Linked DNA regions of Homo sapiens. The gene in region 4 interacts genetically with the main gene of each other region. Each region holds a gene or a part of one and is shown on either strand. Other genes may lie near its edges.

Region 1 (3,500 bases), on a different chromosome or scaffold from region 4:
TTTCTTTTTTCTTTTTTTCCCCTGAGACGGAGTCTGGCTCTGTCGCCCAGGCTGGAGTGCAGTGGTATAGTCTCGGTTCACTGCAAGCTCCGCCTCCCGGGTTCACGCCATTCTCCTGCCTCAGCCTTCAGAGTAGCTGAGACTACAGGGGCCCGCCTTAACGCCCAGCTAATTTTTTGTATTTTTTTTTTTAGTAGAGACGGGGTTTCACAGTGTTAGCCAGGATGGTCTCGATCTCCTGACCTCGTAATCCGCCCGCCTTGGCCTCCCAATGTGCTGGGATTACAGGCATGAAAAACCACCTGCGCCCGGCCTTTTTTCTTTTTTTTAATGACAGTGTCTTGCTCTGCCGCTCAGGCTGGAGTGGGCAGTGGCACTATCTTGTCTCACTGCAACCTCCGCCTCCTGGGCTCAAGCGATTCTCCTGCCTCAGCCTCACGAGTAGCTGGGACTACAGGCACACACCACCACACCCAGCATTTTTTTTGTTTTTCCTTTTTTCGTAAAGACGGGGTTTTGCCATGTTGCCTAGGCTGGTATCGAACTTCTGAGCTCAGGTGATCCATCCACCTTGGCCTCCCAAAGGTTAGGGTTACAGGTGTGAGCTACTACACTCGGCCAGCTTTTCTATTTCTTAAGACAACTCGAATTCTGAACTGTCCTTGTTTTTCTTGTTGCCAAGATCCTTCTTGTTAGTTTAGTTTAGTTTAGTTTTGAGGCGGAGTCTCACTCTGTCGCCCAGGCTGGAGTGCAGTGGCGCGATCTCGGCTCCCTGCAAGCTCCGCCTCCCGGGTTCACGCTATTCTCCTGCCTCAGCCTCCCGAGTAGCTGGGACAACAGGCGCCCGCCACCACGCCCGGCTAATTTTTTGTATTTTTAGTAGAGACGGGGTTTCACTGTGTTAGCCAGGATGGTCTCGATCTCCTGACCTCGTGATCCGCCCGCCTCGGCCTCCCAAAGTGCTGGGATTACAGGCGTGAGCCACCGCGCCCAGCCACCTTCTTGTTAGTTTTATCCACTCACTTATTTTTCTATCCATTTCTCTAAACAAAGTTAAAGTGATAAATCATTAGTACTAATAGCATGTGAGGCTTTCTTTCAATGGCACTCTAAAAACAAGATACTATGAAACAAATATATTTTCTTTTTTCTTTTCTTTTATTTTCTTGAGATGGAGTCTCACTCTGCCGCCGAGGCTGGAGTGCAGTGGCGCGATCTCGGCTCACCGGAACCTCCACCTCCCTGGTTCAAGCAATTCTCCTGCCTCAGCCTCACAAGTAGCTGGGACTACAGGCACATGCCACCATGCCCGGCTAATTTTTTGTAGTTTTAGTAGAACAGGGTTTCACCGTGAGACACAGGATGGTCTTGATCTCCTGACCTTGTGATCCGCCCGCCTTGGCCTCCCAAAATGCTGGGATTACAGGCTTGAGCCACCGCGCCCGGCCATATTTTCAAGAAAATATGAAATCATTCCATAACATTCTGAAACAGGACAAGTTTTTTGGATTAAACTACATCACTTAATTTATGATTCTAAATGTATTTATAAGGAAAATATCTTTATAAAGCTAATATTTGTCTAAAAAATAGTATCTACCTGTCTAGCAATAATTCTTGGCATTTCTGTTAAAAAAAGTTGTCTCACTGGCTGGGCGCGGTGGCTCACACCTGTAATCCCAACACTTTGGGAGGCCAGGGCGGGCAATCATCTGAGGTCAGGAGTTCAAGACCAGCCTGGCCAACATGGTGAAACCTCATCTCTACAAAAAATGCAAAAATTAGCTGGGCGTGGTGGCATGTGCCTGTAATCCCAGCTGCTCAGGTGGCTGAGGAAGGAGAATCGCTTGAGCTCGGGAGGCGGAGGTTGCCGTGAGCCAAAATCATGCCATTGCACTCTAGCCTGGGCGACAGAGCGAGACTCCATCTCAAAAAAAAAAAAAAGTTGCTTTATCAATTAATAGAGGTATGTATAAATATGTGGACATATTAAAAATGTTACATGTAAAGAGAATGCCCATTTTTACCATGTAAATTAGATCATTCTTCTTTTTTTCTTTTTTTGAGATAGGGTCTCACGCTGCCTAGGCTAAAGTGCAGTGGTACAATCAAGGCTCACTGTAGCCTTGACCTCTTTGGCTCAGGTGATTCTCATACCTCAGCCTCCTGAGTAGCTGGGACTACAGGTGCACACCACCACGCCCAGCTAATTAAAAACAATTTTTTTTTTTTTTTTTTGGTAGAGACAGGGTTTCACCATGTTACCCAGGCTGGTCTTGAACTCCTGAGCTCAAGCAGTCCTCCCACCTCAGCCCCCGAAAGTGATGGGATTATAGGTGTGAGCCACGACAACTAGCCAATTACTCTAAACCAGCCTTTTTCAACTGGGTTCCTGATTTGAACCACAAAATAGAAAAAATTAGTGACTGTTTTCTCAATTTTCCCAAGTTTGGTACATAAATAGTACTTCCCTAGATGCCTACGATAAAAGTTAATTTAGGCTGGGTGCAGTGGCTGACGCCTGTAATCCCAGCATTTAGGAAGGCCGAGGCAGGCAGATCACTTGAGGCCAGGAGTTTGAGACCAGCCTGGGCAACATGGCGAAACACTGTCTGCCAAAAATACAAAAATTAGCCAGATGTGGTGGCACATGCTTGTAATCCCAGTTACTTGAGGGGCTGAGGCAGGAATCGCTCGAACCTGGGAGGCGAAGGTTATAGTGAGTCCAGATGGCGCCACCGCACTCCAGCCTGAGGGAGACAGCCAGACTGTCTCCTACACCTCCACCCCTAGCCAAAAAGTTAAGTTATTGCCAACAACCAACAATGGATGTCTTAAAGCAATGATCTCAGTGTTGTTCATCCAACCAGCAGCATCAGCATCCCTTGGGAAGTTTTCTCTATCCCAGAGCTACTGAATCAGAAACTCCAGGGTTTGAGTCCTAGCCGACGCCGTCGCCGCGCGCGCGAGGCCTGGAACACACCGCACGAGCCGCTCCCGCCCCTACCCCTTTACGCCCACGTGGAGCCGGCCCCGCCAGCGCGAGCGCGCCCTATACACCCTCCCGCCCTGCGCCTACATGCTGCCCTGGCTCTGCCCGTGTGTGGGGGGCGCTTCCGGCCCCGCGGGGGTGGGGAAAATAGGGGATTAAAAAAAAACAGCGCGCGGAACCGGGCCAGGGTTGCCCACCCCCGCCACAATGGCCTCTGGGGTGAAGTCCTGCGCTTCCAGCTGCCCGGCCACTAGGCCGCTACGCTACGGAACATGAACAAGCTCCGGGCAGAGGAGTGGTTCTGCGACGTGACCATTGTGGCCGACAGCCTCAAGTTTCGAGGCCACAAGGTCATCTTAGCCGCCTGCTCACCGTTCCTGCGGGACCAGTTCCTGCTTAACCCCAGCTCGGAGCTGCAGGTCTCCCTGATGCACAGTGCACGCATCGTGGCCGACCTGCTTCTCTCCTGCTACACGGGCACCCTGGAATTCGCTGTTAGGGACATCGT
Region 2 (3,959 bases), on a different chromosome or scaffold from region 4:
AGTGGATGTCTCAGGATTCCAAGGCAAGCCCATCTGACTTCAAAGACCAAGTTCCTAACCACTTTGTTACGCTGCATCTCACTAAATATTCTAGATACTATTTTTTCCAGGTCTTCGGAGACCTTACTTCTCTGACTTTCACATTCTAACGTTCTGAGGCTAATACTGCGATCTCAGTATTTGCCCTCCACCCCCAACGACCCACACTCGAGCTCTAGAGCTGCCGTACTTAGCAAATAAAAATACGAGATTTCCAGATAAATTTGAACTTCTGGTAAGCAACGACAGACTAAAAAACTATTCATTGTTTACCTGAAATTCAAATTTAACTGGGTATCCTGCATTTTATCTGGCAACTCTATCAAGTTGAGACTTTATTGGGGTTATAAGCCTCAAGTACTATTTCCGGGTAGTAAATAAAGCCGAATGGAGGCACTGATGTTGAGATGCTGCAGCCAAGGCCTCCTTAAGTGAGGTTGCCACTACTCGTCTCCAAAAAGGCTACTGACTCGGGTGCGAGTAACAGAGATCGAGACTCAGTTCCCAGGGCCACTCCATATAACACAGTCATCAAAAAGCCAACAGATCACAGGGCCTTTGGAGCAGAACAACACAAATCGGGAGCACAGCCAAGAGAGAAAGGGGGAAGAAAGAATAGGGAGGGGGTCTAAGGAATCCCCTGCAGTGTGGGAGCCACTTTATAGGTAAATCGAAGCCCAAGGACACACCAAAGAAGAGGGGACTGGAGAACCGCTAGCCAGGCCCAACCTCTCTCCCACCCTCCGTCTTCCTCCGGGTCCGTCTGGTGGGCCCATTTCGACCAACACCTCTACCCATTTTCTCTTCCCCGGTGTCAGCGCCGCTCCTGACATCCAACCTCCATGTTCCCCCTTTTATTCTCCACTACCTTTGACCCGCGCGCTCTTGGTCTCGAATTTGGTTAACATCTCTCAGGTCTCCGACTCCGATGTCTTAATCCGAGCCCCGACACACCCTGCTGCCCTTCGGACGCCTCCACGTCAGCGACCCTCTCCCGCGGTTTCCGGAAGCGCCTGGAAACACGAACTTCCGGTCTCTTAGGCTCCGGGCCACAGAGACGGTGTCAGTGGTAGCCTAGAGAGGCCGCTAACAGACAGGAGCCGAACGGGGGCTTCCGCTCAGCAGAGAGGCAAGATGGCTACGGCAGGGGGTGGCTCTGGGGCTGACCCGGGAAGTCGGGGTCTCCTTCGCCTTCTGTCTTTCTGCGTCCTACTAGCAGGTGAGGCCTCCCCGCCCGTGAGCTCCGTTCTCTAAGGGGAACTCTCGGATCGGCCCCGCCGCGACCGCCACTGTCTCCCTTCTGGTTCCTGCTGCCCCTCTGTCCCCCCACCCTGTAAATCCTCTTTCTTTTTCGTTCCCACGACAGAAGTTCCCCCTTTGCCTGGACCTGAAGGTCCCTTCTCCCCCGCAGCACGTCGTGTCGCTTCACTCCCTTCTCTAGGCCTCTTCCTGGACTTCGAGCCTGACCCTCTCCCACTTTGTCCAGATGTCTCGTTTTTCCCACAACCCCAGCCACCCACCCCACAGTCGAAAGGAACAGGTGTGAAAGTTAGCTTTCTTCCTCGCGTTTAGACTTTTTGAGACGAAAGCAATCTTGTTCTGTGGGTGCTGTGCGGCGCTTAAAAGGTGGATTTCTTATTTCTTCCTCTGTTGATTACATCCTAAGTCTGTGTCCCCCTGCCTTGCCTCAGGTTTTTTTTTTTTTTTTTTTTTTAATCAGTAAAGCAAGAATAAGGTAGGATATGGGTACTCTTAACTGTGAAGACCCTGAAGTAACAATTCAAGGAACTTTTGGCATTTATAATGTACTTAAGTGTTTGCTGATACGCGTTCATTTACTGATACATGGCTTTTTAGTTGGTCAAGCCCTAAAATGCAAATGCCTGTATATAACTATGACTGTGCCTTCCCCCAATTCACATTGTTTTTAAGGATCCTCAAAGGAGAAACTACAGCTGCCCCACACTGTGGGCACACAAATGACCTGCTGATGTTAAATTAACTGACCCGTGTATGTCATAAGGTTTCTCTCAATTCTGTTCACACTCTTGGAAAAATGCCTCAGAAAGTTTTCTTAGCCCAGCACCTGTGTATTAACCAATTAGTAATATACATACAGGATATACAAGCAGAAGTGTGATCACCTGTGCAACCAGAATCTGGCAAATCTAAGGTCAAACACCTTTCCTTTGACCAAGTTTTCTCTCTTTTAGTGTCACTGTCAATGGCGCTACATGGACTTTGTAATAACCCTTTGAGGCACATAGCTGGGTGCCATGTAGAACATGTATCTGTTACGATAAGTGTGTGCCCAAGAAATCAGAAGAATGGACTTTAATCTCATTTTAGAAAGTATGATATTAAATGATTTACCCAAGCCATACTTCAGGTTAATGACACGATAGAAGCTAGTACCTGTGTCTCTCAAATTTTTCTAACACTTTTTATCTTCCGATCAGGTTTGTGCAGGGGAAACTCAGTGGAGAGGAAGATATATATCCCCTTAAATAAAACAGCTCCCTGTGTTCGCCTGCTCAACGCCACTCATCAGATTGGCTGCCAGTGTGAGTTGAGATGGATTCATGTTTGTGGACATTGATATTTGTCTGTGCCCTAGATACTAAGTAACATCCATGTCCTGCTTAGGAGATTTGACACTTATATTGGACTGTATGTAGGCAGTTACAGATAACCGTCTGTCAAGCTAGGCAAGATAATTAATAAGAACTAACATTTAGTAAATGCTGCATACCAAGCTTTTTACATGTGCATCTCATACAACCCCAACCACAACCCCACAAAATAGGTCTTACTGTTATTGTCACTTTATAAATGATGAAACTAAAACTTAAAGAAGTTGAGTAACTTTCCCAAGATCATACTGGTAATAAGTGATGATGCCAGGATCTGGTGGCCCGAGCACTAAGCTGAGAGACCTTTTTTTTTTGACACGGAGTTTCACTCTTGTCCCCCAGGCTGGAGTGCAATGGCACGATCTCGGCTCACGGTGACCTCTGCCTTCTAGGTTCAAGTGATTCTCCTGCCTCAGCCTCTTGAGTAGCTGGGATTACATGCACCTGCCACCATGCCCAGCTAATTTTTGTATTTTTAGTAGAGATGGTGTTTCACCATGTTGGCCAGGCTGGTCTCGAACTCTTGACCTCAAGTGATCCACCCACCTTGGCCTCCCAAAATGCTGGGATTACAGGCGTGAGCCACCGCACCCAGCCGAGCCAGCACTCTTAACCACCCTATTATACTGTTTTTTAAGGAGAAAAAAGTCTCATATTCTATGGTGTCCAGTTATCACTTGCACTCTGAACTTTTTGGAACCAAAATGGGCTAAAGGCAATGAACTATCTGAAGAGAAGGCACTGAAAATGCCAAATAGGCTGGGCGCAGTGGCACATGCCTGTAATCCCAGCACTTCAGGAGGTCAAGGCGGGTGGATCACTTGAGGTCAGGAGTTTGAGACCAATCTGCCAGCATGGTGAAACCCCCCCATCTCTACTAAAAATACAAAAATTAGCCGGCTGGCTGCTATGGCATGCCTGTAGTCCTAGCTTCTCGGGAGGCGGAAGCAGAAGAATCCCTTGAGCCCAGGAGGCGGAGGTTGCAGTGAGCTGAGATTGTGCCACCATACTCCAGTATAGGTGACAGAGTGAGACACTGTCTGAAAAAAAAAAAAAAAAAAAAAAAGAAAATGCTGAATAATTGCAAGAGGAATTAGTGAAGCATTCTATTTATCCTTTTTTAAAACTTTTTTTCCTTAAATTCAACTGACAGGCCGTTTATTTTCACACTTTGTGTGTTCCAAAAGAAGGTTCCATGACACTGTGGCTTTAAAAACTATCAAAATCATAGGGCAGGAAAAGTAGTAATCTAAAGGCTAACCTGCTGTCTTCAGATTTTGTTTCCCA
Region 3 (3,500 bases), on a different chromosome or scaffold from region 4:
ATGCTCATGGGTAGGAAGAATCAATATCGTGAAAATGGCCATACTGCCCAAGGTAATTTATAGATTCAATGCCATCCCCATCAAGCTACCAATGACTTTCTTCACAGAATTGGAAAAAACTACTTTAAAGTTCATATGGAACCAAAAAAGAGCCCACATCGCCAAGTCAATCCTAAGCCAAAAGAACAAAGCTGGAGACATCACACTACCTGACTTCAAACTATACTACAAGGCTACAGTAACCAAAACAGTATGGTACTGGTACCAAAACAGACATATAGATCAATGGAACAGAACAGAGCCCTCAGAAATAACACCGCATATCTACAACTATCTGATCTTTGACAAACCTGAGAAAAACAAGCAATGGGGAAAGGATTCCCTATTTAATAAATGGTGCTGGGAAAACTGGCTAGCCATATGTAAAAAGCTGAAACTGGATCCCTTCCTTACACCTTATACAAAAATCAATTCAAGATGGATTAAAGACTTAAACGTTAGACCTAAAACCATAAAAACCCTAGAAGAAAACCTAGGCATTACCATTCAGGACATAGGCATGGGCAAGGACTTCATGTCTAAAACACCAAAAGCAATGGCAACAAAAGACAAAATTGACAAATGGGATCTAATTAAACTAAAGAGCTTCTGCACAGCAAAAGAAACTACCATCAGAGTGAACAGGCAACCCACAAAATGGGAGAAAATTTTTGCAACCTACTCATCTGACAAAGAGCTAATATCCAGAATCTACAATGAACTCAAACAAATTTATAAGAAAAAAACAAACAACCCCATCAAAAAGTGGGCGAAGGACATGAACAGACACTTCTCAAAAGAAGACATTTATGCAGCCAAAAAACACATGAAAAAATGCTCACCATCACTGGCCATCAGAGAAATGCAAATCAAAACCACAATGAGACACCATCTCACACCAGTTAGAATGGCAATCATTAAAAAGTCAGGAAACAACAGGTGCTGGAGAGGATGTGGAGAAATAGGAACACTTTTATACTGTTGGTGGGACTGTAAACTAGTTCAACCATTGTGGAAGTCAGTGTGGCGATTCCTCAGGGATCTAGAACTAGAAATACCATTTGACCCAGCCCTCCCATTACTGGGTATATACCCAAAGGACTATTAAATCATGCTGCTATAAAGACACATGCACACGTATGTTTATTGTGGCACTATTCACAATAGCAAAGACTTGGAACCAACCCAAATGTCCAACAATGATAGACTGGATTAAGAAAATGTGGCACATATACACCATGGAATACTATGCAGCCATAAAAAATGATGAGTTCATGTCCTTTGTAGGGACGTGGATGAAATTGGAAATCATCATTCTCAGTAAACTATCGCAAGAACAAAAAACCAAACACTGCATATTCTCACTCATAGGTGGGAATTGAACAACGAGAACATATGGACACAGGAAGGGGAACATCACACTCTGGGGACTGTTGTGGGGTGGGAGGAGGGGGGAGGGATAGCATTGGGAGATATACCTGATGCTAGATCATGAGTTAGTGGGTGCAGCGCACCAGCATGGCACATGTATACATATGTAACTAACCTGCACATTGTGCACATGTACCCTAAAACTTAAAGTATAATAATTAAAAAAAAAAAAAAAAAAGAGTGTGAAACGGCCTTCATGAGGCTTAATTGTGGCTTAACCTGGCACCACCCCTCACAAGGTCAAAGCTATACATCAGCTCCTGTGACATTGACTCATCCCCCAGACCTTATCTAAAACAACGGAGCAAACACATGCTAGGAAGGGCACCCGGGAAATGGAAGGCATTGTTCTATCTCCTCACCTGATTCCATATCTCTGTATTCTGCCCCAAAATGCCTCCACTGGAAGCCATAAACTGGGCCCAAGTCCCCTTCTTCTCTGGTGGAGAATCCCAGGCTGTCCAAAAAGTCTCGGGATCCATTGGCATCCCAGATTTTCACTCCCTTGGAAGACAGCTCTTTAGCATTTGTGGATCCCTGGAAGAGATGGGGAGAGCAGAGCAGGCATCCAGGTAAATCCTAAGCCATCTCAGTTGATCCCCCCGAGACACCACTTACAAGGGCCTCTGGCCCCTGCTGACTTGCTAGGAGGTGGGCACTTGACACCACCCATATGGAACCCATCCTTTTTTTTGTTTTTTGAGAGTTTCGCTCTTGTTGCCCAGGCTGGAGTGCAATGGCGCGATCGTGGCTCACGGCACCCTCCACCTCCCAGGTTCAAGCGATTCCCCTGCCTCAGCCTCCCGAGTAGCTGGGATTACAGGCATGCGCCACTACACCCAGCTAATTTTGTATTTTTAGTAGAGACAGTGTTTCTCCATGTTGGTCAGGCTGGCCTCGAACTCCTGACCTCAGGTGATCCGCCCACTTCGGCCTCCCGAAGTGCTGGGATTACAGGCGTGAGCCACCACACCCAGCTGCCCATCCTATCTTTAAGTAGGCTGGTCCCAGCCCAGATTCCTGAGGGCTTTAGGACAGTCTGATCCCTTCTTTGGAACCACCCTCCCAGATCTTTTCTTCCATTCCCCTCAACTAAGCTTTTTAGGCTAAACACCTCCAAGTGCTTTTAAGTATTCCACCGATCTGACAGTTTTATGTTTCTTAATGAAATGTGTTGTCTATATGTAATACCCCAAAATGAATTTAATGCCTACATGCAATCTGTTCAATGTATCTTCTACCTGGCATACAGGATATTCCTAATGATCAGACTAATCAGTATTTTACAGTGCAGGTGCCTCAACTCCTGTATTTGATCGAGTCACCAATGGAGTAACTCCAACTATCAAGGTGAGTCTGACATTCCTGGCAAGGATTCCTTAGAATCCTGAATTGAAGCATTAAGTTGAAACAGGGGAATGCATTTTATTTCTGAGTATCTTGCTTCCTCCCTTTCTATTGTTGAGTTTGTCCCGATTTTCTTTGATTGAGAAAGAATCAAAGAAATTTCCAACAAATCAAAGAAATTTCTCCAATTGAGAAATTTCCAACAAATCATTTCTCAATCTTTTACATATTGCTTCAAAAGTCTCTCCTTTTCATCCATTCAGACCAGGCTCTAGCCAGTTTAAGAATGTTGTCTTCTGAGGTTTCTGATGATATGTTTCAAATCCAAGGTTCATTGTTAGTCAAGATAGGCCAATACAGAACAAAATACCCCAAGAATACAGAGCTAAGGCAGACCTGGGGCTGGATCCAAATTGAAGCCCTTTCTAAAATGGGATAAGAGGGCTTGGGTCTGGCTTGCCCCAAGACCATACAAGCCATACCAAGTGCTCTATAGAAGGGATCCCAGCTTCTAGTATGGCCCAGACCTGAGCCCAGACCTCAGCCACCTTCCAAAAAGCACTGGTCAGAAAGAACATCGCTGGTTCTAGACCAGGACACGGAACACAGAGAAGCTTGGTCTGGGCTGCTGCCTGTCTTCACAGCACTCTGGCCCCGGCCTGAGGTACCTACTCAGCCCTCTG
Region 4 (3,500 bases):
CTGACAAGAAATGACAAGCCACATTCCCCAACTTTTCAGAAGGGCCCTTCGGGCTGCACCCATGGGGAGTAACAAGAGCACCTTCTCTGAGTACCCACCTCAGCTCAGGCTTATGCTTCACGTGGAGAAAAACAACTTAAACTCTGTTCTTTCCCTTTAAATCAGTGGTTAGAACCAGAGGAGTTTTTTGTCCCCTGCAAGAGACATGTGGCAGGTGGGGCACGGTGGCTCACGCCTATAATCCCAGCCTTTTGGGAGGCTGAGGCGGGCAGATCACCTGAGGTCAGGAGTTCAAGACCAGCCTGGCTAACATGGTGAAAACCCATTTCTACTAAAAATACAAAAAAAAAAAAGCTGGATGTGTTGGCGCGCACCTGTAATCCCAGCTACTTGGGAGGCTGAGGCAGGAGAATCGCTTGAACCCAGGAGGCGGAGGTTGCAGTGAGCCAAGATCATGCCATTGCACTCCAGCTTGGGCAACAAGAGTGAAACTCCATCTCAAAAAAAAAAAATAAAAGTACAGCTGGGCACGGTGGCTAACACCTATAATCCCAGCACTTTGGGAGGCTGAGGCGGGCAGATCACGAGGTCAGGAGTTCGAAACCAGCCTGACCAACATGGGGAAACCCCATCTCTACTAAAAATACAAAAATTAGCTGGGCATGGTGATGCATGCCTGTAATCCCAGCTGCTCAGGAGGCTGAGGCAGGAGAATTGCTTGAACCTGGGAGGTGAAGATTGCAGTAAGCTGAGATCGTGCCACTGTACACTCCAGCCTAGGCAACAGAGCGAGACTCCGTCTCAAAAAAAAAAAAAAAAAAAAGAGACATGTGGCAATGTCTGAAGATGTTTTGGATTGTTACAAATGGAGGGTGAGGTGCTGCTACTGGGATCTAGTTCCTACAGCAAAGGATGGTCAGCCCCAAATGTCAGTAGTGCCCAGGCTGAGAAGCCCTGCTATAAAGGCAACCTCGTGGTGAAAGTGGAGTTTGGCTGCACATAAGCTCAACCTAAATCTGCTTCTGCCAACACAGGTGAAAAGAAAAGGCACTGATTTTTTCAAAGCTGAAATTAAGTATTTCAAAGCAAACGCTGCTAACTCATGGTTTTCAGGAGACCAAGCTCCAGAAAAGCCAAGGAAGTCCCCAAGTAGCCTCCTGGAACCCCAGCCCCTCAGAAATCACCAGTGCTTCGTTGGCCATTGTTGCTTCTTCTTTCATCTGCAGCAGCCTCCTCTCCAACTCATCCCTCGTGCGTTCAGCCTCCTCCCTCATCTGCTTCTCTCGAGCGAGGCGCTGCCGCTCCATCTGCGAGGGGTGAAGAAAAACAGTCATTGAATCACAGGGCTCGAGACCTAGGGTGCCACAAGGGCCCAAAGATGCCCCATCTCCAGTCTCCCCTTTTGGGACCTTTTTCCTTCCCTTTCCTTTAGGTAGCCAGGGTCATTCTTATTGCCCCCCACCCCGTCCTTCTAAACCAGTTGCAGAGTTGAAAGCTGTGCCACTTGAAAAACAGTCTAGTGGTGAATGAACAAATGAACAAACAATAAAAACCTGTTGAGTCTTGACCCGGATAGAAAAAGGCATTCTTTTTTTTTGGTGGAGGGGACAGAGTTTTGCTCTGTCACCCAGGCTGGAGTGCAGTGGCGCGATCTCGGCTCACTGCAACCTCCGCCTCCCAGGTTCAATCAATTCTCCTGCCTCAGCCTCCCGAGTAGCTGGGACTATAGGCACCCGCCACCATGCCTGGCTAATTTTTGTATTTTTAGTAGAGATCAGGTTTCACCATATTGGCCAGGCTGGTCTTGAACTCCTGACCTTATGATCCACCCACCTTGGCCTCCCAAAGTGCTGGGATTACAGGCATGAGCCGCCGCGCCTGGCAGAAGGAGGCATTCTTATACACGGTGCACTGAAATGGCTACCTTGCCAATGTTGCTTTTTGTTGGGAAACCCCAGGTGGCTCTGCCCCATGGCCGATGGGATGCAATGCAGGACCTCCTCCCTCAGATAGAGCCCCAGAAATAAGCAGCTTTCTCATCTGGGCAGGCAAGCCATCTCACCATTTCTAATCCACATGGACCCCTCTCACATCTCTGATTTCATCAACAATAGCTCCACTCTTGCCTCTGACCCACAGAGAAGATGGAATCATTCTACGTGATGCATCAATAGTTCACACATTGTATTTCACAGGGGGGAGCTGCAACAGCCACAGCACAGACTTGCACAGCCTCATGTGGAGACAACTCCTGAGCCAGGCCTAGGACAGGAGGGAGCCAGGCGGGAAACACAGCCCCGTGTCCTTAAGGCAACAGCACAAAGCCACCACTACCTCCCTTGCCTTCTGGATCACTGCATTAATTGGGCCACATGCTGAGCTTAATAAGGGGAACAAGCACAAGACAGTGCCATTCCTCTGTGATCCCAGGGTACTAACTGAGTTCAAAAAGCAGAACCCAGAAGTGACCACTGCACTATTTTCTGCCTTAAATAATTAAAGCACATTTAATTACTTCTTGCTTCAATCTTATCCCACACTCTGGTCATACAAGGTTTCTAAGACTGCTGCTTTTTCTAAATCCTAAGCCAAATACACACACACACACACACACACACACACACACACAAGCTCAAAAAGATAATGCAAAGACAAGCAATAAAACAGTGAAAGTTCTTCTCCAATTTTCTCCTTGTAAGTCAATGAAAAGCTTGGCCAATTTGTTCTCTAATTTCCATCATATTACAATTTCCATAAGGTGGCTTACTACATATCTACAATTCTTTTAAAAAAAAAGAAACTAAGAAAGAAAGAAAGAAAAAGCCCAGTCAGGCCAGGCAGGCATAGCAGCTCATGCCTGTAACCCTAGCACTTTGGGGGGCTGAAGTAGGAGGAATGTTTGAGCCCAGGAGTTTGAGATCAGCCTGGGTAACATAGCAAGACCTGATCTCTACGAAACAATTAAAATTAACTAGGTGTGGTAGCATGCACTTGTAGTCCCAGCTACTTGAGGGGCTGAGGCAGAAGGATTGCTCAAGCCCAGGAGCTTGAGGTTACAGTGAGCTATGATGGCACCACTGCACTCCAGCCTCAGTGACAGAACAAGACCCTTTTATTAAAAAAAAAAGCCAGGTAATCTCCTTCAGTTCCTGGCCCTGTACTTTCCCTGAGACCTCTACCCCAATATAAAAGACCTCCTATTCACAAAAGAAGTTTACTGCATACAAAGACTGTAAGGTGTAATATACGTCCCTTCATCTGAGATGGAGAAGGTATATCATTAGTTTCACCTGATGGATGAGAAAACTAAGGTCTGGAAGGTAAGTCATTGACTTACTCACATTCTAAATTTCAGATCTGGCTCCAAGGTCAGTGTCTGTCCACCTGATCTGTGGTTGCCCAGATGCCAGGTTTGTGGCTCTGCTGTGCTGTAAGCAGTGCCGATCTGCAGTGTTCCTGCTATTCTCTGCCAGGGCCCACAGACTGCATATTCCCTGACA

Evidence for each region.
Region 1: changes in NF2 (region 4) and UBE2K together harm fitness more than expected from each alone (negative genetic interaction), as found in Homo sapiens cells (one large-scale study listed by BioGRID).
Region 2: changes in NF2 (region 4) and NCSTN together harm fitness more than expected from each alone (negative genetic interaction), as found in Homo sapiens cells (one large-scale study listed by BioGRID).
Region 3: changes in NF2 (region 4) and TYMS together harm fitness more than expected from each alone (negative genetic interaction), as found in Homo sapiens cells (one large-scale study listed by BioGRID).

Annotation. Positions count from the first base shown.
Region 1 is NC_000004.12:39,771,136-39,774,635, reverse strand, and holds part of UBE2K (ubiquitin-conjugating enzyme E2 K), read right to left. Parts: exon of another isoform or gene 2,937-3,500; intron 1-2,936. UniProt on the Homo sapiens protein: Accepts ubiquitin from the E1 complex and catalyzes its covalent attachment to other proteins. In vitro, in the presence or in the absence of BRCA1-BARD1 E3 ubiquitin-protein ligase complex, catalyzes the synthesis of 'Lys-48'-linked polyubiquitin chains.
Region 2 is NC_000001.11:160,342,224-160,346,182, forward strand, and holds the start of NCSTN (nicastrin isoform 1 precursor), read left to right. Parts: upstream 1-1,159; 5' UTR 1,160-1,173; coding exon 1,174-1,258; intron 1,259-2,252; exon of another isoform or gene 2,253-2,366; coding exon of another isoform or gene 2,367-2,391; intron 2,392-2,498; coding exon 2,499-2,603; intron 2,604-3,959. Other genes in the region: COPA (coatomer subunit alpha), read right to left, coding at 908-947. UniProt on the Homo sapiens protein: Essential subunit of the gamma-secretase complex, an endoprotease complex that catalyzes the intramembrane cleavage of integral membrane proteins such as Notch receptors and APP (amyloid-beta precursor protein).
Region 3 is NC_000018.10:660,653-664,152, reverse strand, and holds part of TYMS (thymidylate synthase), read right to left. Parts: intron 2,008-3,500; coding exon 1,833-2,007; intron 1,168-1,832; exon of another isoform or gene 1,148-1,167; coding exon of another isoform or gene 1-1,147. Other genes in the region: ENOSF1 (mitochondrial enolase superfamily member 1), read left to right, coding at 1-1,147. UniProt on the Homo sapiens protein: Catalyzes the reductive methylation of 2'-deoxyuridine 5'-monophosphate (dUMP) to thymidine 5'-monophosphate (dTMP), using the cosubstrate, 5,10- methylenetetrahydrofolate (CH2H4folate) as a 1-carbon donor and reductant and contributes to the de novo mitochondrial thymidylate biosynthesis pathway.
Region 4 is NC_000022.11:29,669,633-29,673,132, reverse strand, and holds part of NF2 (merlin), read right to left. Parts: intron 1,308-3,500; coding exon 1,185-1,307; intron 1-1,184. UniProt on the Homo sapiens protein: Probable regulator of the Hippo/SWH (Sav/Wts/Hpo) signaling pathway, a signaling pathway that plays a pivotal role in tumor suppression by restricting proliferation and promoting apoptosis.